Linked DNA regions of Homo sapiens. The protein of the gene in region 2 interacts with the protein of the main gene of each other region in a pairwise test. Each region holds a gene or a part of one and is shown on either strand. Other genes may lie near its edges. The genes, in order: RASAL3, ZRANB1, UBASH3A, CNNM3, CDKL3, ERF and ZBTB24.

Region 1 (3,500 bases), on a different chromosome or scaffold from region 2:
GCCTCCTTCTCACCGAACCTGGATCAGGGCCAGGCTGGGTGGGTCAGGTCAGGCACCTGCCACCCCCACACTCCCAGCATGGTCCCCCCACCCCTAGCTTCCCAGCACCTACGGGGCACGGTTGGCGAGGTTCTGGATGACCTTGGCAATCAGTGTGAGGGTGCGGGCTGGGCCGGGTGCTGGATGGTCTGGTGCCAAACCAAAGAGGCTGGGTGCCAGGATGGCAGGGCACAGGAGCCGCAGGAAGAGGGAGGCGCACACCAGTCGGGGGCCCAGCACCTCAGAGCCACGTTCTTTACATGCTTCTCGCCAGCTTGAGAACACGATGCCCAGCTCCGCAGGGAACCAGCTGGTGCAGAAGAGGCAATGAATGGTCAGACGGGGAGGCTATGGGCATAAAGGTTAAAGTCATAAGGTTGGGAGTCCCAGAAGCACTGCATGATTGGTCCATGATCCTCCAGAGAGCTATTCATGAAGCCCATGCAGGCTTCCTTCTCACTGAACCTGGGGTCTGGGCTCTAGGATTGGGAATATCTGAGATAACAATGCTTGGGGTTATGAATCAGCATGGGGCCATGGCTTATGGTGTAGCTATGGCAATCGCTGGGGATAATACTCTTATAGTTGGGGATACAGGGTCACATGAAGACAGAGGTTATGAGCTTGGATGTACTTATAATTAGACATGAGACTGGTGGGCCAGAGTACAAGATATAAAGTAGGATTGGGGCTCTGGAGGTCACCTAGGGTCAGAAGTCACTTGATTGAAGTCAGGGATTAGGTATGCAGGTTAACCTAGGGTCAGAGGTCAAGGGATTGGAATCCCAGGTCTCCTGTGATCAGTTGCATGGGATTTGAGGTGGAGGGTCACTTAAAGCCAGGGATCATGGACTTGGGGCATCATCTGGTCATAGGATTGAGGTCCTATGTTAACTGGAGCCAGTGGCATGAAATTGGGGATATGGAATCAACTGTGGTTACAGGACAAGGAATTGGGTCTCAGGTTACTTGGGGTCAGTGGTGATAGGGTTGCATGGTGATAGGGTTGCCAGATGCAGCAAACGAAACTTCAGGACATCCAGTTAAACATGAATTTCAGATAACGGAGTGATTTTTATTTATATTTTTACTTTTATTTGGGACAGGGTCTCTGTCAACCAGGCTGGGGTGCTGTGGCATGATCATAGCTCACTGCAGCCTTGAATCCTGCGCTCAAGCGATCCTCCAGCCTCGGCTGGGAATACAGGTGTGTGCCACCATGCCTAGCTCATTTTTAAAAAGCTTTTTGGAGAGATGGAGTCTTGCTATGTTGCCCAGACTGGCCTTGAACTCCTGGGCTCAAGCAATCCTCTTGTCTCGGCCTCCTAAAGCATTGGGATTACGGGCGTGAGTCACCATGCCTGGTTCAAATGAGTAATTTTTTAGTATAAGCATGGTCCCAATTATTGCATCAAATTTAACTGAGTGTCTCCTGTATTTTATCTGGCCACCCTAAACTGGAGGTCGGGGCTAGCATGGTAAGCAGGGGTGGGCTAAGCTGCTGGGGCCCTGATTCTCACTCGTAGGAATGGATAATGGTTTCGAAGACCTCCTCGCAGCTGTTCCGAAGTCTGGCCTGGTGCTCTGGCAGCTCCGAGGCTGGACATTTGCTGGGGTCCACTTCACAGTCCTCAGTAGAAGCACAGAGACGCCGCACAACCTGTCCTGCAGCCCAGCACAGCCAGATAGGGGCTGGGGCCATGACCACCAAAACCTGCCACACCCATCCTCCAACCTTGTCTTCAGGTTATTCCGGAGGCACCCAACATCTTGGGGAGCTCCCAATTGTCCCCAGGATCCTAGCACCCCCAAAACACCACTCACTACCAGAATCCAGGTTGCTCAAGGACTCTTAGAACTTCACCCAGGTCCCCTAGCTCACCAGCAGGCCGCTGACATGGACTCTCCCCCAGCTCACCCAGGGTCTCCTGGAGGTAATCCTGTGCCACGAGCTTCATGTACTCATCGATAGCCTTGGTGGCCAATGTGTTTTCCCGGAACAGCAGCGCCTCACGGCCTCCACAGCGCGCCAGCTCCGCAGTGCCCAGGTCAGTCACCAGCGCCTAGGAAGGGCAGGAGGTCAGGTTGCACCAGATGCAGACAGAGTCCAAGGGAATTCGGATCCTTGGCTGGTCCCTCACACCAGAGGCACAGGCCCCGCCCCTTGTAGCTGATGCTTAGGCCCAGTCCTTACTGCTGGGGCTCATAACCGAGGCCGGAACCTCTAACCCTCACAGCAGAAATTTAAGCCTTTCAGCGCTGAGGTGCAACCTGGGCCCCGCCCCTCACGCGTGATGCTCAGGCCCCTGTCGCAGCTGAAGCTTAGGCTCCGCTCTTCAAGGTGTCCCGCCCCTTATGGGTGATAATTAGGCCCCGCCCCTCACAGCTGAAGCTCAGGCCCAGTCCTTCAAGGTGCCCCGCCCCTTACAGGTGCAGCTCAGCCCCAGCCCCTCACAGCTGACGCTCAGGTCCCGCCCTTCAAGGTGCCCCGCCCCTTACGGGTGATGTTCAGGCCCCGCCCTTCTAGGTGCCCCGCCCTTCTAGGTGCCCCGCCGCTTACAGGTGACACTTGGACCACGCCCCTCACACCCCTTCAAGGTGTCTCCCCCATTACAGGTGCAACTCAGGTCCTGCGCCCCAACTCCTGCCCGAAGCGCGTTATCGGTCTACCCCTGGTAGCCCCGGTCCGCGCTGTCGCGGTGCCGCACCTGCGCCCGGCCGGTGGCCCGCAGCACGCGCACCATGGCTGCCGCCAGCTCCTCCTTGGCCTGCGCAGGCAGCGCGGGCTCCAGGGCCCCGCAGAGGCGCGCATAGTGGAAGGTGAGGAACTCCGCCAGCTCCTTGTAGCGCTCGGACGGCAGCACGCGCAGGCGACGCGCCCGAATCCGCGCCCGCAGCGCTGCGCCCGCCGGCGCCCCGAGCAGCGGGAACCAGCGCTCCAGACCGGCGGCAGGCGCGCGTGGGGCGTCCAGCTCCTCCAGCGCCAGGGCCACGCGGCCCAGCACCGCGCTTCCCGGGCCCAAGCCGCGCAGCCGCAGCGACAGGCGACGTGCCGGTGGCAGCGCCTCGAAGTGGAAGCGCTCGGCCCAGAAGAGCTGGCCTGGGCCGGCCCGAGGCGCCGTGCGTGCCAGCAGCGCGCCATCCAGCCACAGCTCGGCGCGCACGCCGGGTGCCCCCGCCGCTGCTCGGGGAAGCCCCTTCGCTTCGTGCACCCACACGCTCAGCCATGTCTCTTCCCGCTCCACGTTGTCCTGCAGATGGGAGTGGGATGGGGGGAAGCGTTTTGGTTTGTTGGCACCCCAAAGAAGGCACCGCAAGTGAAGCGTGGAGCCTCAAACCTGTTGCGTCGGGTCCCTAGGGAGATTGCTGGGCCTTTGGGGAAAGAAGTGGAGCCACGGGAGTCCGGAGGCGGTTACGCGGAAGTCTTCTAGCTTTTCTGGGCTCTCCGGGAGAGTTGGGGG
Region 2 (3,500 bases):
GTCCTCCATGACTGCCGTATCTAAAATTTCATCCCTGTCCATTATCCCTCCCCACAGCATTAATTTTCTTCATAACACTTCTAATATGCTTCATCATCTTGTTTATTATTTGTCTCTCTCTACTCTAGAATTTAAGCTTCCTGAGGGCCAGTAATTTTATGTTTTGTTCAAAGCTGTATCTTAGTATGTACAACAGTGCCTGCTACATACATACTAGGCACTCAGGTATTTTTATATCAATGAACGAATGAATATTTTTGGGAACTAGGGTCTGGGCAAACCTTTATCCTACTCCTCCTATGAATTTCTAGATTCTTTGCCTGCTTCCTAGCTCTCTATGTTTTTCAATAGTTGGGGCTCAACCCAGGAGAGCCAGTTTTACTTCTCACTGGTTGTCAGGAAGACTGAGGTAAGTAGTGGGTATGAAAGGGTCTTACAGGAAAGGGTATAGAGGCTTCAGTTTATCACCAGGCAGTCTATGGACATGAAAAGTCTAAAGTCAGGTTTATGTTTAATTTCTCTACCTCCCTACTTTCACTCATGGCAATATTTGTTTTTTCAAAAAAATCATTCTATGTGTTTGCTATAACTATCAAATGAGATTTTTACTTGAAATATTTTATTCAGTTGTCATTGGACCTGCTGCTTCCTAGTTGGCGTTTATCTTACTTCCTAAACAATAGCTGCATCTTTCTTAAGTTTAGGAGCTGAGATTTGGTTGGGGCTGTTGAAGGTATAGGGGGAAAAAAATCAAACTTAAGTAACAAGTTCACATTGAAACTATGTATACACATATATATGTATATATATATGTTTACACACATATGTATATATATATGTTTACACACACATATATGTATATATATTCACGTATACACACACACACACACACACACACACATTTTTTTTTTTTTTTTGAGACAGGATCTTGCTCTGTTGCCCATGCTGGAGTGCAGTGGTGCGATCACAGCTCACTGCAGCCTTGACCTCCTGGGCTTAAGCAGTCCTCCCACCTCAGCTTCCCTAGTAGCTGGGCGTACAGGTGTATACCACCATGCCCCGCCAATTTTAAAAATGATTTGTAGAGATGGGGTCTCTCTGTGTTGCCCAGGCTGGTTTCAGACTCCTGGACTCAAGTACTGGGACTGCAGTTGTGAGCCACCACCTGGCCTGAAACTGGAATTTTTATGCTGAAATACTCAGTTGCCCAATAGCAGTGGTATGAACAGCTTTCACTATAGGGAATATGTGAATCAGTAATGCCTCCCGGTGCTCTGAAGTTTTGGGGTGACGTGAAGTGCACATGCAGTGGTGTTCCCTGTTGAAAATCAATGACTTACGGACTGAACCAGAATCTCTTCTTTATCAAGTAGCAGGATGAAGTGGCATCATGAGGATTATAATTCTGATGGTTTCTGAGCAAAATTTGTCCCACTTTCAGAATTTTGACATGTCTGTAAAGACTTAGATGATTTTTATTGTTTTATTTTTTAATTAATTAACTAATTAACTTTTTTGAGGCAAGGTGGTCTCACTGTCTCCCAGGCTAGAGTGCAGTGGTGTGTGATCTTGGCTCACTTCAATCTCTGCCTCCTGGGCTCAAGCAATTCTCCTACCTCAGCCACCCAGGTAGATGGGACTACAGACGTGCACCACCACGCCTGGCTAATTTTGCATTTTTTGTAGAGATGAGGTTTCCCCTTGTTGCCCAGGCTGGTCTCAAACTCCTGGGTTCAAGCAGCCCGCCCGCCTCGGTCTCCCAAAGTGCTGGGATTACAGGTGTGAGCCACTGTGCCTGGTCTTACATGATTTTTAAAACATAGAACATGTATTGGTAACGTTTTCTTATATTAGTTGTCTGCAAAAATATTGTTATATTTAATCTATTATTTTCCCTTTTCTCATAACTTAATTGTGTTGAGAATCAATGTTTGAGGCAAATCCATTTGGATTCTAATTGTATTTGGGCCTCTTGCCAGAAATCCGTATAACGTGTCATATGGTGTCTGTCCACTCTAGAGTGCCAAGTGTAACTCTAGAAATATCTAAATATTTCCACAGTTTCTGGATGGGTCTGGATATGGTGGCTCAGTCCTGTAATCCCAGCACTGTGGGAGGTTGAGAAGAGGGGAGGATCGTTTCAGCCTAGGACTCTAAAACCAACCTGGGCAACTTGGCGAGACCTCGTCTCTATAAAAAATAAAAAAAATTAGCAGGACATGGTGGTGTTCCCATGTGGTCCCCACCTATGCAGGAGGCTGGGATGGGAGGAACACTTGCGCCCAGGCTGCAGCGGGCCATGATTGTGTCACTGCATTGCAGCCTGGGTGACAGAGCAAGACCATGTCTTAAAACTTGCATGGTATTAAATATGTCAGAAGGTATTTGTCCATTTGGTTTTACTTACACACCTTGTTTAAAAAAAAAAATAGCAAAGTGTAGGCGTATTACATTTTAAAATATTCTTTTCAATTTGTTTTGGTATTGATATTAAGAATTACGTATATAGATGGACATTTACAATTTGTCAGAGGTTTTTCTCAAGTAAATTATTAAATTAGTATTACTTTTTTCTCTGGAGAAACAAAACCGTTGCAAAATGTAATCTTCTATAATGATTTTTTTAAAAAAAGTTTCTACTGTTGAAATATGTGCCTGGTGTAATGAAAGGGAGGTTGTACAATAATCCAAACAAAATTAAATTAACTTCTGTGAAGGAAAAGTCATTTAGTTTTTGAGAGATTATATTCCTTTGAACTGGAATGATTTTAAAGTGATTTATATTACCAAGAAAATTACCATGTCAAAACGGAAAAGGAAATCCTTGCATTGGACACTGGTGATTTTGCCCATTTAAGACATCTTTGGGGTGACTTTTTAACTTGAGAGAAAACTCAGGGCATACAAACGATTGTGAAGAAAAAAATAGAAGAGGCTTCTATTCTCTAGTTCATTACTCCTTAGCTTTAAAAATTATTTCTTTCACAAGGATATTTTATTGATGACTTACCTGAAGGCACAAAACATTTGGTGTTTTTAAAAACACACCATCTGCTGGTCGCGGTGGCTCATGCCTGTAATCCCAGCACTTTGGGAGAGCGGGGCGGTCGGATCACTTGAGGTCAGGAGTTCAAGACCAGCCTGGCCAACATGGTGAAACCTCGTCTCTACTGAAAATACAAAAATTAGCTGGGTGTGGTGGCGGGCATCTGTAATCCCAGCTACTTGGGAGGCTGAGGCAGAAGAATCTCTTGGACCTGGGAGGCGGAGGTTGCAGTGAGCTGAGATCATGCCACCGCACTCCAGCCCGGGCAACAAAGTGAAACTCTGTCTCAAAATAAATAAATAAATAAAAACAAAAAAATAAAAACAGTATTGATGAAATAAGTTATAATGTCCAAATTTACATTTTTAACTTGCCCATTGACTTCCTTATAGGTTCATCTCCCTCTACCCCCTCTTTGGGCTTTTTGGGTGATTTGCATGACCAATATAAATAG
Region 3 (3,500 bases), on a different chromosome or scaffold from region 2:
CAAGGAACCCTCCATTCCAACACCAGGCCCCTCGGTGCTGGATGGAAAGGAGGAATGCAAACCTCTGAAGGGAAAAGATTTCTGGAAGATGTCCCAGGAGAAGCAGTACCTTCCAAAGCCTCCAACCACCACCCCGGATTGCCCGAGACTTGCAGGGATCCCCAGAGCACAAGACTAAACCTGGAAAAGCCCCAGAAAAATCGAGAGAGTTTTCCCCCTACATCGACATCAATGGTACTTGTGACAAGCTGACTCCCTTCTGGTTCACCCTCTGGAGCCAACGGGGAAAGGCAAGGCAGCCCAAGCCATGTGACACAGCTCAGAAATCAGAGCAGGCCTTGGCCCCCCACTCCTTCCCCAGCCCACTGAGGTGCAAGCACACACACACACACACAGATAGACACAGAGACACACACATAGCTCACACACATAGACACACACAGATTGACACAGAGACTTACACATGCACACAGATACACACACATACATGCATACAGACATACATAGATATAGACACACAGACACACACAGATAGACACAGAGACGTACACACGGCACACACAGATACACACACATACATGCATACAGACATACATAGATATAGACACACAGACACACACAGACATGGAGACGTACACACGGCACACACAGATACACACACATACATGCATACAGACACACACAGAGACACAGATACACACAGACACACACAGATAGACACAGAGACGTACACAGCACACACAGATACACACACATACCTGCATACAGACATACATAGATATAGACACACAGACACACACATATATACATGCATACATGGATACAGACATACACAGACACACACAGATAGACACACATACACACTACATGTACATAGGTACACATGCAAACAGATACACACAGATATACACACACAGGAATACACAGATACATGCACATAGACACACACAGACACACACAGAGACACACATTAGATAGACACACATGCACAAACACAGACATGCACATACATGCACATACATAGACAAATGCACACATACAGACACACACATAAGCACCACATGCACACATATGCACACAGATACACACATGCATACACACAGACACACATATAGACATACGCAGACACACAGACACACATAGACATACGCATATGCAGACACACACACAGACACACACACATATAGACATATGCAGACACAAACACACTCACACACCTCCCTCTGTCGTTAGCTCCTCCCAGTCCCCCACCCCAGTTCTGGCCTGGCCGTGGTTAGTGGAGCTCCCCTCACAGGCAGAAGAGTGTAACGGAGACTCACTGTGTACCTTGATGCTGTAAAATGAAAACACTAATCTTCCGAAGTGTGATATTGATCACAGCTACACTTATAACATGACTATTCTTGAAAATTACATATCTGAGGCCAAGAAACACAATGTGAGACGGATTCAGGAATGGACATGTGTTCACTGGGTGGTTTTGTGTTGAGTGCCGTTGAGGGTTGCAGAGAAAACAGACAGGGAGGAATGTCAGGCCGGCCTGTCCATGGGGAGACGGAAGCTGCATTAAACACTGTGATCTGGCCTCATACTTGGGCTTGTAAGAAGCACTGTGGGAAATTCCGAGGGCAGCCCGGTGCTGGGAAGAGAAGGGATCAGGCCAACTCCCGCCAGGAGGGTGTGGTGTCTGGGTTTCCCCTGTGGTCCGATGTGGCCAATGGCACTGGGAAGGTTTTCAAGCCCAGGAAGCAGCCTCCCCAGGGCGGTAGGCAACACCGAGCCCAGATGTCAGGAGAGGCTGCGTCTGGCTGGAGGATGGGGGTGGGAGCCCCGTGGGCAAGGCTGTCGGGCCAGCACCTGTCGGGCTCCGTGGGCCTGAGGGATTCTCCAGGTGACAGAGAGCCTGCGGCCTCAGGGGTGGGAGCTGCATCAGAAAGAGGGTCCTGCAGCCACTCAGGGGGCATCAGGGAGGCCGGGCCAGGGGCTGTGCAGGCTCAGGTCCTCCAGGGAGCAGACCCCAAGGCAGAATTCCCAGTGCAGGAGACGCACAGGGGAGAGACTGCTGGTGAAGGCAAAAGAGGAGGAGAGGGTTGGAGGCAGGCAGAGCCTCAGTGCCTTAGAGGAGTCCCTGTGGAACCCGACTCAGTGCTCAGCCGTGGAAGAGAGGGTGGCCCCGCAGCTGGAAGTGCAGCTGAGTCCCGCTCACTACAGGCTCTGAGCAGTGCCTGGGCAGCCTTGGAGTCTGCTAGAAACCTCCAGAAGCCAAATCATGCAAACCTGAGCAAAGCAGTGTGCCATGGGACTGAGGAAAGGGCCTGGCAGGTGATGAGCACGTGCCATGGAGGGAGGGGATGCAGTTCAACGACCAGGGGATTTCCAACCTGGGCACCTAAAGGAGACTCCAACCTGCAAAGAAACTTACCTGAAATATTTGAAAAAACCGAGGTCCAGGTATAGAACAAATCCATAACCCCAGACACAAAGGGACGCAATAAATTATGTTACAGCGCTTTGAACAGAAAAGAATCTCACTTTAATTGCTGCCTGATTGTTATTAATTAAATTAATAGATGACTTCTGATGAGAGGTGTGGAAACACAGGCTCTGTCTCTGTCCCCTTAGTGTGAAGACCAGAAGGTGGAATGCCTGTACGAGGCGCTGAAGAGAGCTGGAGACAGGCTCCTGGGCTCCTTCCCCACGGCCGTGCCTCTGGCTCTCCACTCCTCCATCAGCTACCTCGGCTTCTTCGTCAGTGGCAGCCCCGCAGACGTCATCCGGGAATTCGCCATGACCTTCGCCACGGAAGCATCTCTCTTAGCAGGTGGGCAGCCCTGGCCAGTTGCAAACACAGGGCTGGATTCACAGTGAGTGAGCCCTCTGTGGCAGGGACTAGCCCCCGGCACATGGATGCAGTGGGTGGGTTCCAGGGGAGCAGAGCCCAGCAGCAATGGTGGGATGGCTGGGTGGGCTTTCTTCCGGGCTCAGTGGCTGCACCTGTCCTCACCCAGGCACTTCCGTTTCCCGCTTCTGGATTTTCAGCCAGGTGCCTGGACATGGCCCTAACCTGAGGCTGAGCAATTTAACTAGAGCCTCCTTCGTGAGCCACTACATCCTTCAAAAATGTAAGCCATTAGAAAGCTTCCGGACCAGCTTTGGTCTTCTCTTTAGGCGGGAATAGCCTTGTTCTCATTATGTGGTTTTTAAAATGCTTAGCTATATGCCAACAGCCTGGGAAAGTGCCCCAGAAGGGTGTGCCAAGCATCAAGCCTGAGTGGGTGACTGTGACGGGGTTGGAGGCTGGTGCACACAGGGAGTCAGGGCCTCCCCACCCCAGCCTTGAGTGGGAGACACACAAGTCCTACGTGACTTATTTCTGTATTTTCAGTATGAGCTTAGTGCTCTCTCCTTGGCCTCTCCAGGGAAAGATTATTTAGACTCATATTCAGAATCATCAAAATTCCCTTCTCTCCAAACACCAGCCCTGGCCTGGAGACCAAGGC
Region 4 (3,500 bases), on a different chromosome or scaffold from region 2:
TTCTCCTGGTGTGGTGGCCAACATTGCAACCCTGGAATCAGCGGAGTAGGTTCCATCCTGCCCTTGCCTGCCCCCAGGCCCTGAAGGCTGCTCAGCCTCTTGTGGTGCAAAGTCCTCTGCTGTTAGTGATAAGAGTGGGTAAACAGACCTGCGGGGGGAGACTCATCAAGCACTTTGGCCAGTGCCTGGCGTGCATATGCTGTGTGCTTGGCGTTAGCAGGTGGTTCTTACTCCGGGACAGGCTCTGCTGGTAGGTGAGCTGTTTGCCAATCCAGGAGCAAGGGGTGAATCTGGAATTGCAGATTTCTGTTCTTCTAGGCAGGTCACCAGACTTCCTTTTTTTTAGGGAAAAAGTGGAAGACTGTAGCTGTCCTTTTGGTGTTCAAAGCACTCACGTTTCTAGATTCTTTAAGAAAAAGCTCACTCTGGTGTCTGGCTTCAGCTGGCTGCTGCTTTCAACAGTTGAGCAGTCACCAAGCAGAGATTTGGAGCAGCGGAGATGGAAGGGTTGTCCTGTTCAGAACTAAAGGCAACTTCTGTAGTTGGTCATGATGCTCAGGATGAGGCTGGTGAAAGTGGTCTTTCATTTTCCAAACCGCCAGTGTCAGGATCTTCGCTGCCATGGTCTTGTCTTTCAGATGCGATGGATGAGCTTGGTCCAGGGTGGTTGGGGATTCCACTTGGGGAAGAATAAAAAATGTTCATGTTCGTTGGGAAGGAGCGCAGAGGCAGGATGTCCCCTGGCGGGGGGGCTTGTGTGCTGTGTAAGGAACTTGTACTTGATCACCAGGGCCATGAGCATCAAGCAGCAGCATCAGTTATTTTTACAGATCAGTAACAATTGTGGACACCAGCGCAGGGAGACCAGCGGTGTGAGGGATCCAGGTGAGAGGGGATGATAACCTGAACAAGGTTCATGGCAGGCCTGGAGAGGAGCCCCAAGAGGGCAGCAGAGGTGGAATTGGGAAGATTGGTATCTGGCAGCAGGGCTATGCAACAAGGAGGAGCAGCTGAGGATGAGGCCCAGATTTCTGGCTGTGTGGTGGCGGTGCGCCTTCACTAAGGGCCGGGCGTGGGGAGCAGGTTTTGGCCATTGAATTTGTGTCTGTGCAGTGTCCCAAGAGGCAAACTCCTAGCAGGCCGTTGATGTGAAATGCAAGTGGGAGGCAGAATAGGAGTGTCTCTCAAGTCATGGGAGGGAGGCAGAGAGCCTCAGCCTCCTAGGAGCACAGGTGTGTCAGGGGCAAGGGAAGCCCAGGAGAAGCTGGCCAGGAGGAGGCAAGACCAAGGAAGGAGGAGTTCCCGAGATGCGGAATGTCCTGGAAGCTAAGGGAAGAGACCACTTTCCCAGGGAAGGTGAGTGACAGGAGAGGAGGCCAGCAAACAGGATGCCGTTGACCTTTGCAAGAGCAGATTTGGTGCCACGGCAAGGGAGCCATTTGGGGAATGAATGAGGTGTGGAAAGGTACGAGAACCAATGTAGACAGCCCTCCACAGAGTGTGGCTGCAGAGAGAAGTGACTGGCAGAGGATGTGGGACAGGGGAGGAGGCCTTCTGCTGTTTGGTTTTAAGATGGGCAAGTCCAGTAGGTTCAGATTGAAATGCAGGTTGAAATGTAGCTAGGAAGGAAATTAGAGAGGCCAGGGTCCGGGCTGCTCCTGTTCTGGGCTGGGTGGCCTCCAGGCAGGTCACAAGCAGCCCGATGCAGGAGGATTTGGGGTTGAGTGCCTCTGCTTGAAACAGACCTTTCTAAAAGCTGCCTGACAACATGCTGAAAAGGATCCCCTTGGAAGACAGTGGGGGAGGTTTTTGGAACCTGGAGGTTAAATGGGGAGCTCTTTAATCCCCCTTGACTTCCCCGCTCCTGTGGTGAGTGAGGGCCATTCGTGGGCAGACTGGCCATGTCTTTCTGGTGACATCCCGGAGCTTTTTTCTCTGCTTCTCTAGTTCAGTGCAGTCCTTTGGCAAATATCTTTATTTTTTCCGTGTTAAAGTCCTTTTTGTCCTTCCTAACCTTCTTAAGCATTCCTCCACTTAGGAACAAAGGGCATATTGCAGTCTTTGTGGCGTGTGAGGTTTTAAAAATCGATTCCCTTTCCATCTCTCTGCCAAGCTAATGAGCCTCTGAATTTCGTGGAGCTGGAGTCCCTGCCATCTTGGCAGCTTTCATTCCGGGTCTTGTTTCTTTTGCTGTGTCTGCTAGGGAACTTTGTAGTCTGGGGGCAAGGTAACCTCCCCAGCAAGGCGCCCCTCAATCAGTGCCAACTTGAGATGACGTGCTGATTATTTTGTGCAGACGTCACCAGGAAGAGTGAGTGCTTTGGAGCCATAATAAATAACTTGGACAGCTGCTCCTTGACTTACAAATGGAGTTATGTCCTGATAAACCCATTGTAAGTTGAAAATACCTTAAGTCAAAAATGTGTTTGATACATCTAACCTACCAAACCAAATAGTTCAGCCTGGCCCACCTTAAACATGCTCAGAACACTTACTTTAGCCTGCAGTTGGGCAAAGTCATCTAACACAAAACTATTTTAAAATAAAGTGTTGAATATCTCATGTAATTTATTGACTGCTGTACTGAAAGTGAAAACAGAATGGTTATATGTGTTTGAAGTATGGTTTCTACTGAATGCATATTGCTTTTGAACCATCAAATTTGAAAAATTGTAATTTGAACCATTGTTAAGTAAGGGACCTTAATGTACAAAAGAACATTATTATTATTATTATTATTTTTTTTTTTTTTTTGAGATGGAGTGTTGCTCTCTTGCCAGGCTGGAGTGCAGTGGCACAATCTTGGCTCACTGCAACCTCTGCCTCCCGGGTTCAAGTGATTCTTCTGCCTCAGCCTCCTGAGTAGCTGGGACTACAGGCGTGCACCACCACGCCCAGCTAACTTTTTTATGTTTTTAGGAGAGATGGAGTTTCACAATGTTGGCCAGGATAGTTTCGATCTCTTGACCTTATGATCCGCCCGTCTCGGCCTCCCAAAGTGCTGGGATTACAGGTGTGAGCCACTGCGCCTGGCCAAGAACATTATTATTATTATTTTTGAGACAGAGTCTTGCTCTGTCACCTGGGTTGGAGTGCAGTGATGTGATCGTGGCTCACTGTAGCCTCTACCTCCTGGGCTCAAGTGATCCTTCCACTTCAGCCTCCTGAGTAAGCTGGGGCCACAGGTGAACACCACCATCCCCAGCTAATTTTTAATTTTATGTAGAGATTGGGGTCTCCCTATGTTGCCCAGGCTGGTCTCAAACTCCTGGCCTCAAGCGATCCTCCCAGCTCAGCTTCCCAAAGAGATGGGATTACAGGTGTTTCCCACTGTGCCTGGCCGCAGTCTCTGCTTTAAAGGAACCCAGCTCTGGTTTCCTGTCTGCTGGGAGCCAGATGATTGCCATGATGCGGAAAAGAGTCTGACCAGCTCCAACAGCAGTGAGGAGCGTCAGCACACTACTTTTGTCTTTCTCACAGTATTCATTCATTCACTGAGG
Region 5 (3,500 bases), on a different chromosome or scaffold from region 2:
ATAGACAAAATGCTTATACATGTGTGGGTTTGTTTCTGTTCCATTGATTTTTCTCTTTATTCTAGAAGTAGTACAACTTTGATTTATTATTGTAACTTTAAAATACACTTTGATATCTGATGTAGGGCACATATTTTTCCTAGATATAAATTTTCTAAACAATGTTATTGAGGTATAATTTGTGGGCAGTAAACTATACATACTTAAAATGTACAATTTGAAGAGTTTTGATGCATGTATACACACATGAAACCACCACCACAATCAGGATACCTAACACACACACACACAAACACACACACGATACCTAACATTTCCATCACTCTCCAAAATTTCATTGTGTCCTTTTACAATTCATCTTTTCTTCCATTTCTGTCCCCAGATAACCACTGATTTGCTTTCTATTCCCATAGATTAGTTTGAATTTTCTAGAATCTTATATAAATAGAAGCATACAGTAGGCACTCTTTCATGTCTGGCTTCTTCCACTCAGCATAATGGTTTAGAGATTCATTCATGTTTTTGTATGTATCAGCAATTTGTTCCTTTTTTGCAGAGTAGTAGTTCATTATATGACTATACCACATTTTAAAAAATCCTTTCCCTGTTGATGGACATGTGGGTTATTTCCCACTTTTCGCTATTACAAATAAAGTTGCCATGAGAACATTCATGTTTGTCTTTGTATGGAACACACATTGTATTTTCATTCCTCCTGCAGAAATATCTAAGAACAGAATGGCTGGGTCATGGGTAGGCATATGTTTAATTTTTAAAGAAACTGCCAATCTGTTTCCCAAAGTGTCATGTTTTACATTTTCCAAAGTAGGGCATATATTTAAATTTACTGAATTATATTCACAGAAGGACTGCCTCTAATTGTCTGCCCCTATGATTTGGTCAGACCTTTTAGCATTTTTCTTATAAGTTTTAGTGATAGATTACCATTATATTCTAAAATGAGCACATATTTTTAACTAGTTGCAGGGTTTTTTTAATTTGTTTGTTTCGTTTTGTTTTGTTTTTGAGACGGAGCTTTGCTCTTCTTGCCCAGGCTGGAGTGCAATGGCGTGATCTTGGCTCACCGCAACCTCCTGTCTCCCGGGTTCAAGCAATTCTTCCGCCTTAGCCTCCGAGTGGCTGGGATTACAGGCATGTGCCACCACACCCGGCTAATTTTGTATTATTTTTTTTTTAGTGGGGACGGAGTTTCTCCATGTTGGTCAGGCTGGTCTCTAACTCCCAACCTCAGGTGATCCACCCTCTGTTGCCCCCCAAAGTGCTGGGATTACACGCATGAGCCACCACACCTGGCCAACTAGTTGCAGTCTTAAAGACCTAGGTATTGCCACATCATTAAGTAGGTAACAGACTTAAATAATTTCTCCTTGTGAATCAATGTTTTTTATTTTGGTAAAAAAAAAACCCCACATAACATGGAATCTACCTTCTTACAAAATTATTAAGTGTACAGTATGGCATTTTTAACTATATGCACATTATAGTACAGCAGATCTCTAGATTTTTTTCTGTGAATCAGTTTAAATATGCATTTTGAAATAAACAGAAACATAATATTATATACAATTATCTTGGATTTGCTGGATTTTAATTGTGGCTCCTCTACTTATGAGATCTTAAACAAATTACTTGATCTCTCTGGGCCTCAGTCTCCTCATCTGTATAATGAGGATAATAATAATACTTACTTTGTAGGATTGTTGTTGCGATGGAAGGAAGAAAAAGCTGGAGCGTTGTCTGGTATGTAGTAAGCATCAATAAAAGTTACTAGTCAGGCTTGGTGGCATGTGTCTGTAGTCTGAGCTACTCAAGAGGCTAAGGAAGGAGGATATCTTGAGCCAAGGAGTTCAAGGCTCCAGTGAGCTATAATTGCACCACTGCACTCCAGCCTGGGCGACAGAGTAAGAACCTGTCTCTAAAAAATTTTAAAAGGCCAAGCACAGTGGCTGTCTTCTGTAATTCCAGCACTTTGGGAGACTGAGGCGGGAGAATCGCTTGAACTCAAGAGTTCATCAGCCTTACAACATAACAAGACTCCCATCTCTACAAAAAAGTTAACTATTAATGTTTTACCTCCTTTCACAGGAGGAATGAAAATTATAAAGCAGATGCTTTTTATTGAAAACCTGTTTTCAGTATTTTGATTAAAGAAATGTGTTCCATTTATAATTATTGTTATTTAACTACATATAGATTTATTATGTACAACTTAACATTCAAAACTACCTTCCATATTTTGTTTGTTTGTTTCTATACCAAGAAAGGGAAACAGAAAAGAGCTGATTTAATAATGGGTTATTGAAAGATTTAGGGACTTGAATATTTGCAAAATGGTATTATGATATAGAAAGAGTGCTGGATTAGGCGTCAGACAACATGGGTTAAAACTCGTGTTTGGCAAACTACTAATCATGCTTCTAGATCTGTAAAATGCAAATGATTATCCATGAACTTTCCACCTGTCAGGGCAGAAAAGAGGATCAAAATGAGCTAATTAATTTTTGCTAATTTCAGCAGAAACAGACTGACCTCTGTTTTGGCTAGAATCATGGGACATTTAACCTATAATAATGTTTTGCAAGTGCAAATTCCTTAGGGAAATAAACAGCCAGAACTTACTACCAGAAGTTCCTGAGGTCTAATTCCATCTTTTCAAGAAGGCTTTTTGATCTGGATAATTACTTACTTCTTAATTTGTCAAATAAATTTAATTTTTACCATATGGAGCCCTGTTGAGAGCTCACTTATTAAAATCTTTTTCCTTTCCTAGGCTTGTTTACAAATTGATCCTGCTGACAGGATATCATCTAGTGATCTTTTGCATCATGAGTATTTTACTAGAGATGGATTTATTGAAAAGTAAGCATTTTGAGTGAATGTGGGTTTTTTAAAAGCATTTTGTATTGGGAAATTTTACTAGCAGGAAAATTGCTGTATAGGTTACTTTTATATAACAAATATTCAGTTTAACAAAAATTTATTGAGTTATTGTATCAGGTATTGACTAGGAAGACAGCAGACTTAACAAGTGTCACGAATGAAAAGCCTAATAATAGGATGGGCATAGTGGCTCACACCTGTAATCCCAGCACTTTGCGAAGCTGAGGCAGGCAGATTGCTTGAGCCCTGGAGTTCACGACCGGCCTGGGCAACATAGAGAGACCCCTGTCTCTACAAAAAATACAAAAATTAGCAAGGTGTGGTGGCACACGCTTGTAGTCCCAGCTACTCGGGAGGCTCAGGTGGGAGGATTGCTTAAACCCCAGAGGTGGAGGTTGCAGTGAGCTGAGATTGCACCACTGCACTCCAGCCTGGGTGACAGGTTGAGACCCTATCTCAAAAAAAGAAAAAGAAAGTCTAATAATAAAAAGTAATTGCAACTAACATTCGTTACACAGTTACCATGTCCTAGGCAGTGTGCTCTGCTCTTTACATACTACAGTTTCAGTGTCATCATAGACCAGAGATAACATTAAATA
Region 6 (2,530 bases), on a different chromosome or scaffold from region 2:
ACCTTGTGATCTGGATTCTCTAGAAGGGTGAGGATAATGGGTTGAACACCTAGATTCCCAAGAGAGCGATGGTGCTCTGGGGTCTCTGGAAGGGGTTGTCAAAGGCTGTCACTTTTAAATGGAACAGGGGCTGTTGGTGCTGGTCTGTGAACAGCTGGAGGTCATATCCCTGGCACCCTGAGGGGCTGGTGGAAGGCTGGGATATATCTGAATGGGGCAGGGACTCCGGGGGCTATGTGGTACTGCAGCCCAGTCTGGGCAGGAGTTGGGGGCCTACAGTGAGCTCTGGATTTGGAGGGGGTGGTCCCTGTGGGAGCAGGAACTACTGATTCCCTGGATTCCCAAGGGGAAGGATCCCTTGTTGGATTCCAGACTTGGGTGGAGTCTTTGAGGGTGGATGTGTTGCCTGGAGGCCTTGTTGGTACCTGTTTGAGCTGGGGCCAAGGGAGGCGGATTGACCCCTGCAGCCTGACTGGATTTGGGAGCCGCCCATCTTTAGCTGGCCACCTTGGCCTTCTCTCTCTAGTGGCACCAGGGACCCTGCTCTGCCTCCCCACTCCTTCCCTTCCTCCCCTTTCCCTCCTCCCACCCCTCCATTACCGGCTGCCTGGTGCTGAATTATTGATGGCCCCTGTTGTTGGGAAATGACAACAACCGCAGTCCCCCCACCCCCCACCCCCCACCCCAGGCTGCCCACCCCCTCCAGAGACCAGCCAGCCCACCGCCAACCTCTACCCAAGGTTAATGCTGGGGGTGGGCAGGCAGGTGGGCAGGGAAGGAGCTGAAGATGAGAAGGCAGAAGTGGGAAGAGGGTGACAGCTCCAGGGTGCCTGCTCAAGCTCCAGGCCTGGGCTGGGCCCTCCAGCCAGGTGGGGCCTGGATGCCTGGGTCTGGGGAGGGCAGTGTAGCTCAGAGGGTCCAGGGCTTGGGGGGCCTCTCAGACAGTCTGGGTTTCACTCTCCAGGGAAGACAGAAGCCTCTGTGTGTGCAAGCGCTGACCTCATCGGCAACCGAGTCACCCCACCCCTCCTGGTCCTTTTAAGAAAAAAAAAAAAAATCTTCCTCTCAGGTCTTGGGGTTGGGAGTAGGGGCTCTGTTGGGTCTTCGGAGGAGACAGTGCATGTTTCTAAGGAGGACATCCGAGGAGCTGGGGTGGTGCAACTGGCTCTGAATGGGAGTGGGGGTAAGCTGGGGGGCTGTACCCCAACCCGGCTGGCCACGTGTGCCCCTTCCTGCCCCTCCCCCACTGGCAGCCCTGCCCGCCAGCCTGGCTTGGTGCCTGGCCCCCTGGCACTGGCCCCGGGACCCACCGCCGACGGTTTCCTGTTTCTCCCGGTGTCGCTGGAGCGGGCTCCAGCTTCCCCTCCCCCCCAGCTCCTGTCTAGCCCCTCACATGCAGACAGACAGACACGCACTGTCTTCTCTTAAATCAGATCTTGACTTGGCTGAGGTGAGACAGATTTCCCCATGTTGAAGGCAGGGCAGAGGTGGACCCTGGGATGGGACCCAGAGCCCTGGACTTGGCAGCCTGACCCCAGGCCACTCCCTGCCTCCCGTCCCCAGGGTTTGCCTTCCCGGATTGGGCCTACAAGCCAGAGTCGTCCCCTGGCTCAAGGCAGATCCAGCTGTGGCACTTTATCCTGGAGCTGCTGCGGAAGGAGGAGTACCAGGGCGTCATTGCCTGGCAGGGGGACTACGGGGAATTCGTCATCAAAGACCCTGATGAGGTGGCCCGGCTGTGGGGCGTTCGCAAGTGCAAGCCCCAGATGAATTACGACAAGCTGAGCCGGGCCCTGCGGTGAGGACGGGCTGGGGACCCCTGAGCACATGTGGAGTGCCCCCCCGGGGTTGCACAGCCCCTTGCCTGTGGGAACAAGCATTGGGTCTGACCCCTGGCTTTGCCAAATCCTAGCTGTGTGACCTTGGGCCACTCCCAGCCCTTCCCTGAGCCCCTTGGTAACACAGACGTATCCTGAGGAGAGATTACAGTCACCAGTGGATCCTCTAGTCCTGCCTTAGATGTGAGGAGAGAGCTGGTACCCACCCTCTGGGCACTTGATTTGTCTTTTGTGGCCTACGTTCCTCAGTTGGCCTTTGGGAACCACACCTAAGTGCGTGTTAAGGTGTGGAGTCTAGACCTGGGTCCCACGTACCTGACCTTCCCAATGGCATTTCTGTACCCACAGCTATTACTATAACAAGCGCATTCTGCACAAGACCAAGGGGAAACGGTTCACCTACAAGTTCAATTTCAACAAACTGGTGCTGGTCAATTACCCATTCATTGATGTGGGGTTGGCTGGTGAGTACCAGGGATGGTTGGTGTGGAGAGGGTCTACATGCCCCTTCAGGCTAGGCCAGGGGCCTTGACACTGTCTCCCTTCTGCCAGGGGGTGCAGTGCCCCAGAGTGCCCCGCCAGTGCCGTCGGGTGGTAGCCACTTCCGCTTCCCTCCCTCAACGCCCTCCGAGGTGCTGTCCCCCACCGAGGACCCCCGCTCACCACCAGCCTGCTCTTCATCTTCATCTTCC
Region 7 (3,500 bases), on a different chromosome or scaffold from region 2:
TCCCCAGGGTGGGCATTACCAACACCTAAATGGTGTTTTCTCAGCCTAGTATCATTTCCAACGTGGTGTCATTGAAAGACAGGATTTTGCATCTGTCTGAGTGCAGTTTAGAGTTCTGCACGGATCATTAAACTAGAGCTTATAAACTGGCTGCTGGGAGTTTAGTGTGCAAGCATGTTTTATTAAACCACCAAAGTTTAGAATTGTTTTACTTTGAACGCCTTTCGGGGAAACTTAAATTCTCCAGTTCTACCCCAGTCTCCAGTACTCCCGATTGCCTTACATACCTTTGCACATTTATGTTTCTGTGGTAGATTGAAGGCTTCTGGGTATGTAAACAAGTCGCTTGTATCATTTGTAGAAAATGGGGACCTGGACCCACTGTAGTATTTACCTTATTAGTGAGCATTCCAGTTCTTTATAATTTTTTACATGTTTTAGTGTTTTGGTTTTTTTGGCAGGACAGAAGTCTTTTACCTGTGATCAATGCGGAAAATATTTCAGCCAGAACAGACAGCTAAAGAGCCATTACCGAGTTCATACAGGTACGATAAAGTGAGAACATTTAGATTGGGGGGGAAGAAATGCAAATAAGAATTGTTTCTGAAACATTAGGTTTATATTGTTCTGCTCTTAGCACATATCGTTCACATAGGGTATTTAGGGAAAAGTGCCTTAAGAGTCTAAATTACATGTTTTTATGTTATTGTCCGCCACCATGTGAATTATGTTTTATTTGTATACTACAGTTTTGGTGCCACACACAGAAACCCTACAGAATTGGCATCTTTCAAAAGTGCCACTTGCACAGGGGAGCTTCAGTGAATGGTTGTTAGTGGTGCCTGGGCAGAGACATCATCATCCCATGGCTGTCAGCCCAGGCTTTCTCTCCCCTGGTTCTACCTGTTGTCCTTTTTCTTTCCTGCCAACTGATAAGAAATGAATGTGGGTTACGAGTGTCATTTGAGGTCATTTGTGGCCTCAGTCACACCAATACTTTGAGGAAAAAAGGAGAGACTACATTTAGAATTGGAAGGATCCTAGCTCTCTTGGAGGAGGCAGTGAGTTGAGGTGCTTAGGAAAATATTAACAGTTACCAAATTAATGAAAAAATTTTTGTGGTTAAAGTACTATATTTAAAGTGATTATTTTTCAGGGAAGTGCTTTAACACAAATCACTGAAGAAAAGGCAGGGAGAGCATGTATGCACTGACACTTTTTTTATTGTTGCGACAAGGCCACTCATTACCGGAATGCAAAGACTGCCATCGCAAATTCATGGATGTGTCTCAGCTAAAGAAACATCTGCGAACACACACAGGTAAAACTCCATCTCGTCTGTCCCCCCAGTACACGGGATGTTTTCAGGAGAGTGAAGAATGAAGTTCTCTGAGTGCCCTGCTAAGCCTGTGTTTGGAAATGTTTATTATAAATTGGATGGGAGTTGTGTAAGAAGATAAGTTAAAAGTTGGAAGGCAGAATGTTGTCAGCACTGTCTTTGGGGAAATCACATCTCTTGTAGATGAGCAAAATGGAGATCACTTACTGAGGACTATTCGTATGTCACAATTCATTTAATACCACAGAATAGTGAGTCTGAGTCTGGTTCTATGTTTCACTCTTAATTTACTTCAGCATTGAAGGTGATATCAAGACTTTTTTTTTTTTTTTTTTTTAAAGATAAGGGCTTGTGCTGTCATCCAGGCTAGAGTGTAGTGGCACGATCACAGCTCACCACAGCCTTGACCTCCTGGGCTGAGGTGATCGTCCCACCTCAGCCTCCTGGGTAGCTGGGACCACAGGTGCAAACCACCACACTACCTAATTTTTTATTTTTTAATTTTTGTAGAGATGGGTCCCACTATGTTGCCCAGGCTGGTCTTGAACTCCTGGGCTCAAGCAGTCTTCCTGTCTGAGCCTCCCAAAATGCTGAGATGACAGGCATGAGCCACCATACCCAGCAAGATAAATTTTTTTTTTTTTTTTTGAGACGGAGTCTCGCTCTGTTGCCAGGCTGCAGTGCAGTGGCACGATCTTGGCTCACTGCAACCTCTGCCTCCCGGGTTCAAGTGATTCTCCTGCCTCAGCCTCCCTAGTAGCTGGGACTATAGGTGTGCGCTACCATGCCCAGCTAATTTTTTTTGTATTTTTAGTAGAGATGGGGTTTTACCATGTTGGCCAGGATGGTCTCGATCTCTTGACCTTGTGATCTGCCCACCTTGGCCTCCCAAAGTGCTGGGATTACAGGCGTGAGCCACTGTGCCTGGCCCAAGATTATTTTTTTAGAAAAGACAGCCAAATGTAACAGACACAAATGTAGCATAGACACTGAGAATGTTTCCACTTTCTCCCCTAGAACCAACACTTAAACTTAAGCAGCACCACCTCCAGAAAAATCAGTTTCAGAGATGACGAGGAGGCAGCATTGATTAGGGCAGGTCAGTTTTTTTATGTAAGATCGGAAAATTGGATCTTTTATACCTTTTGTCAAAGAATGTATGTTAAAAATAAGCCTATTCAGTTTTCTAAGAAAAACTTGCCATTACAGGTTATTTAATAATTCTGTTGTCTACTGGAATTATCTAAATAGCAAATTGATTTATGGTGCTTTGGACTTTTTTTTTTTTTTTTTTTGGAGTCACTGTCTCTGTCGCCCAGGCTGTTGTGCAGTGGTGCTATCTTGGCTCACTGTAACCTCTGCCTGCTGGGTTCAAGCAATTCTCCTGCTTCATCCTCCCGAGTAGCTGGAACTACAGGTGCGCACCACCACGCCTGGCTAATTTTTGTGTTTTTTTTTTGTAGAGACAGGGTTTTGGCATGTTAGCCAGGCTGGTCTCGCTCAAACTCCTGGCTCAAGTGATCCACCCTCCCAGCCTCCCAAAGCGCTGGGATTACAGGCGTGAGCCACTGTGCCTGGCCTGGATGTTGTTTTTTAAATACAAGTTTTTCTTCTTAAATTCAGTAAACATCTCATAGGATATGGATTTTAACACATGTACTGAGCACTTACTGGGAACCAGACATTGTTTTAGGCTTTGAGGATACAGCAGTGAATGAGATGGACAGGCCCCTGCCTTAAGGGGCCAACATTCAATAGGGAAGACAGAGTACAGACAAGTATATAACACATTTGGTGTTGTGAGTGCGTTGAAGAATAAAATGCAAGGTAAGGGGGCGGGATGCCGGAAAGAGAGTTGCTCTTTTATGCATGGACTGGTTTGGGAAGGTCTCACAGATGAGGTGGCATCTTGGATGGAGATGAGAATGCAGTGGGGGAGTGAGCCAGCCGGCCATTGAAGATGTCCAGGAGAGAGCATTCTAGGCAGGGGGAGCCCTGGGCACAGGGCCCTCAGGCAGGAATAAATGTTTTTGACAAGCTGGAGACGTGCTGGGAGGAGCATCAAGGCAGCCAGAGAGCTGGGAGTAGGAAGTCATAGTGTAGGTGGATGTTCTCAATTTAGCTGCATGCTTTTTACCACCTGGGAAGCTTTAAAAAAAAG

Evidence for each region.
Region 1: the proteins of ZRANB1 (region 2) and RASAL3 interact in binary tests that used the Homo sapiens proteins (3 or more experiments, as listed by UniProt).
Region 3: the proteins of ZRANB1 (region 2) and UBASH3A interact in binary tests that used the Homo sapiens proteins (3 or more experiments, as listed by UniProt).
Region 4: the proteins of ZRANB1 (region 2) and CNNM3 interact in binary tests that used the Homo sapiens proteins (3 or more experiments, as listed by UniProt).
Region 5: the proteins of ZRANB1 (region 2) and CDKL3 interact in binary tests that used the Homo sapiens proteins (3 or more experiments, as listed by UniProt).
Region 6: the proteins of ZRANB1 (region 2) and ERF interact in binary tests that used the Homo sapiens proteins (3 or more experiments, as listed by UniProt).
Region 7: the proteins of ZRANB1 (region 2) and ZBTB24 interact in binary tests that used the Homo sapiens proteins (3 or more experiments, as listed by UniProt).

Annotation. Positions count from the first base shown.
Region 1 is NC_000019.10:15,454,545-15,458,044, forward strand, and holds part of RASAL3 (RAS protein activator like-3), read right to left. Parts: intron 3,291-3,500; coding exon 2,748-3,290; intron 2,103-2,747; coding exon 1,958-2,102; intron 1,705-1,957; coding exon 1,560-1,704; coding exon of another isoform or gene 1,556-1,559; exon of another isoform or gene 1,365-1,555; coding exon of another isoform or gene 1,305-1,364; exon of another isoform or gene 1,094-1,304; intron 388-1,093; coding exon of another isoform or gene 350-387; coding exon 113-349; intron 19-112; coding exon 1-18. UniProt on the Homo sapiens protein: Functions as a Ras GTPase-activating protein. Plays an important role in the expansion and functions of natural killer T (NKT) cells in the liver by negatively regulating RAS activity and the down-stream ERK signaling pathway.
Region 2 is NC_000010.11:124,948,623-124,952,122, forward strand, and holds part of ZRANB1 (ubiquitin thioesterase ZRANB1), read left to right. Parts: intron 1-3,500. UniProt on the Homo sapiens protein: Ubiquitin thioesterase, which specifically hydrolyzes 'Lys-29'-linked and 'Lys-33'-linked diubiquitin. Also cleaves 'Lys-63'-linked chains, but with 40-fold less efficiency compared to 'Lys-29'-linked ones.
Region 3 is NC_000021.9:42,410,402-42,413,901, forward strand, and holds part of UBASH3A (ubiquitin-associated and SH3 domain-containing protein A), read left to right. Parts: intron 1-2,622; coding exon 2,623-2,821; intron 2,822-3,008; coding exon 3,009-3,122; intron 3,123-3,157; exon of another isoform or gene 3,158-3,500. UniProt on the Homo sapiens protein: Interferes with CBL-mediated down-regulation and degradation of receptor-type tyrosine kinases. Promotes accumulation of activated target receptors, such as T-cell receptors, EGFR and PDGFRB, on the cell surface.
Region 4 is NC_000002.12:96,819,268-96,822,767, forward strand, and holds part of CNNM3 (metal transporter CNNM3 isoform 1 precursor), read left to right. Parts: intron 1-3,500. UniProt on the Homo sapiens protein: Probable metal transporter.
Region 5 is NC_000005.10:134,311,672-134,315,171, reverse strand, and holds part of CDKL3 (cyclin-dependent kinase-like 3), read left to right. Parts: intron 1-1,254; exon of another isoform or gene 1,255-1,761; intron 1,762-2,791; coding exon 2,792-2,880; intron 2,881-3,500.
Region 6 is NC_000019.10:42,249,599-42,252,128, reverse strand, and holds part of ERF (ETS domain-containing transcription factor ERF), read left to right. Parts: intron 1-688; exon of another isoform or gene 689-740; intron 741-964; exon of another isoform or gene 965-1,183; intron 1,184-1,563; coding exon 1,564-1,798; intron 1,799-2,186; coding exon 2,187-2,302; intron 2,303-2,390; coding exon 2,391-2,530. UniProt on the Homo sapiens protein: Potent transcriptional repressor that binds to the H1 element of the Ets2 promoter. May regulate other genes involved in cellular proliferation.
Region 7 is NC_000006.12:109,473,220-109,476,719, reverse strand, and holds part of ZBTB24 (zinc finger and BTB domain-containing protein 24), read left to right. Parts: intron 1-461; coding exon 462-545; intron 546-1,237; coding exon 1,238-1,321; intron 1,322-3,500. UniProt on the Homo sapiens protein: May be involved in BMP2-induced transcription.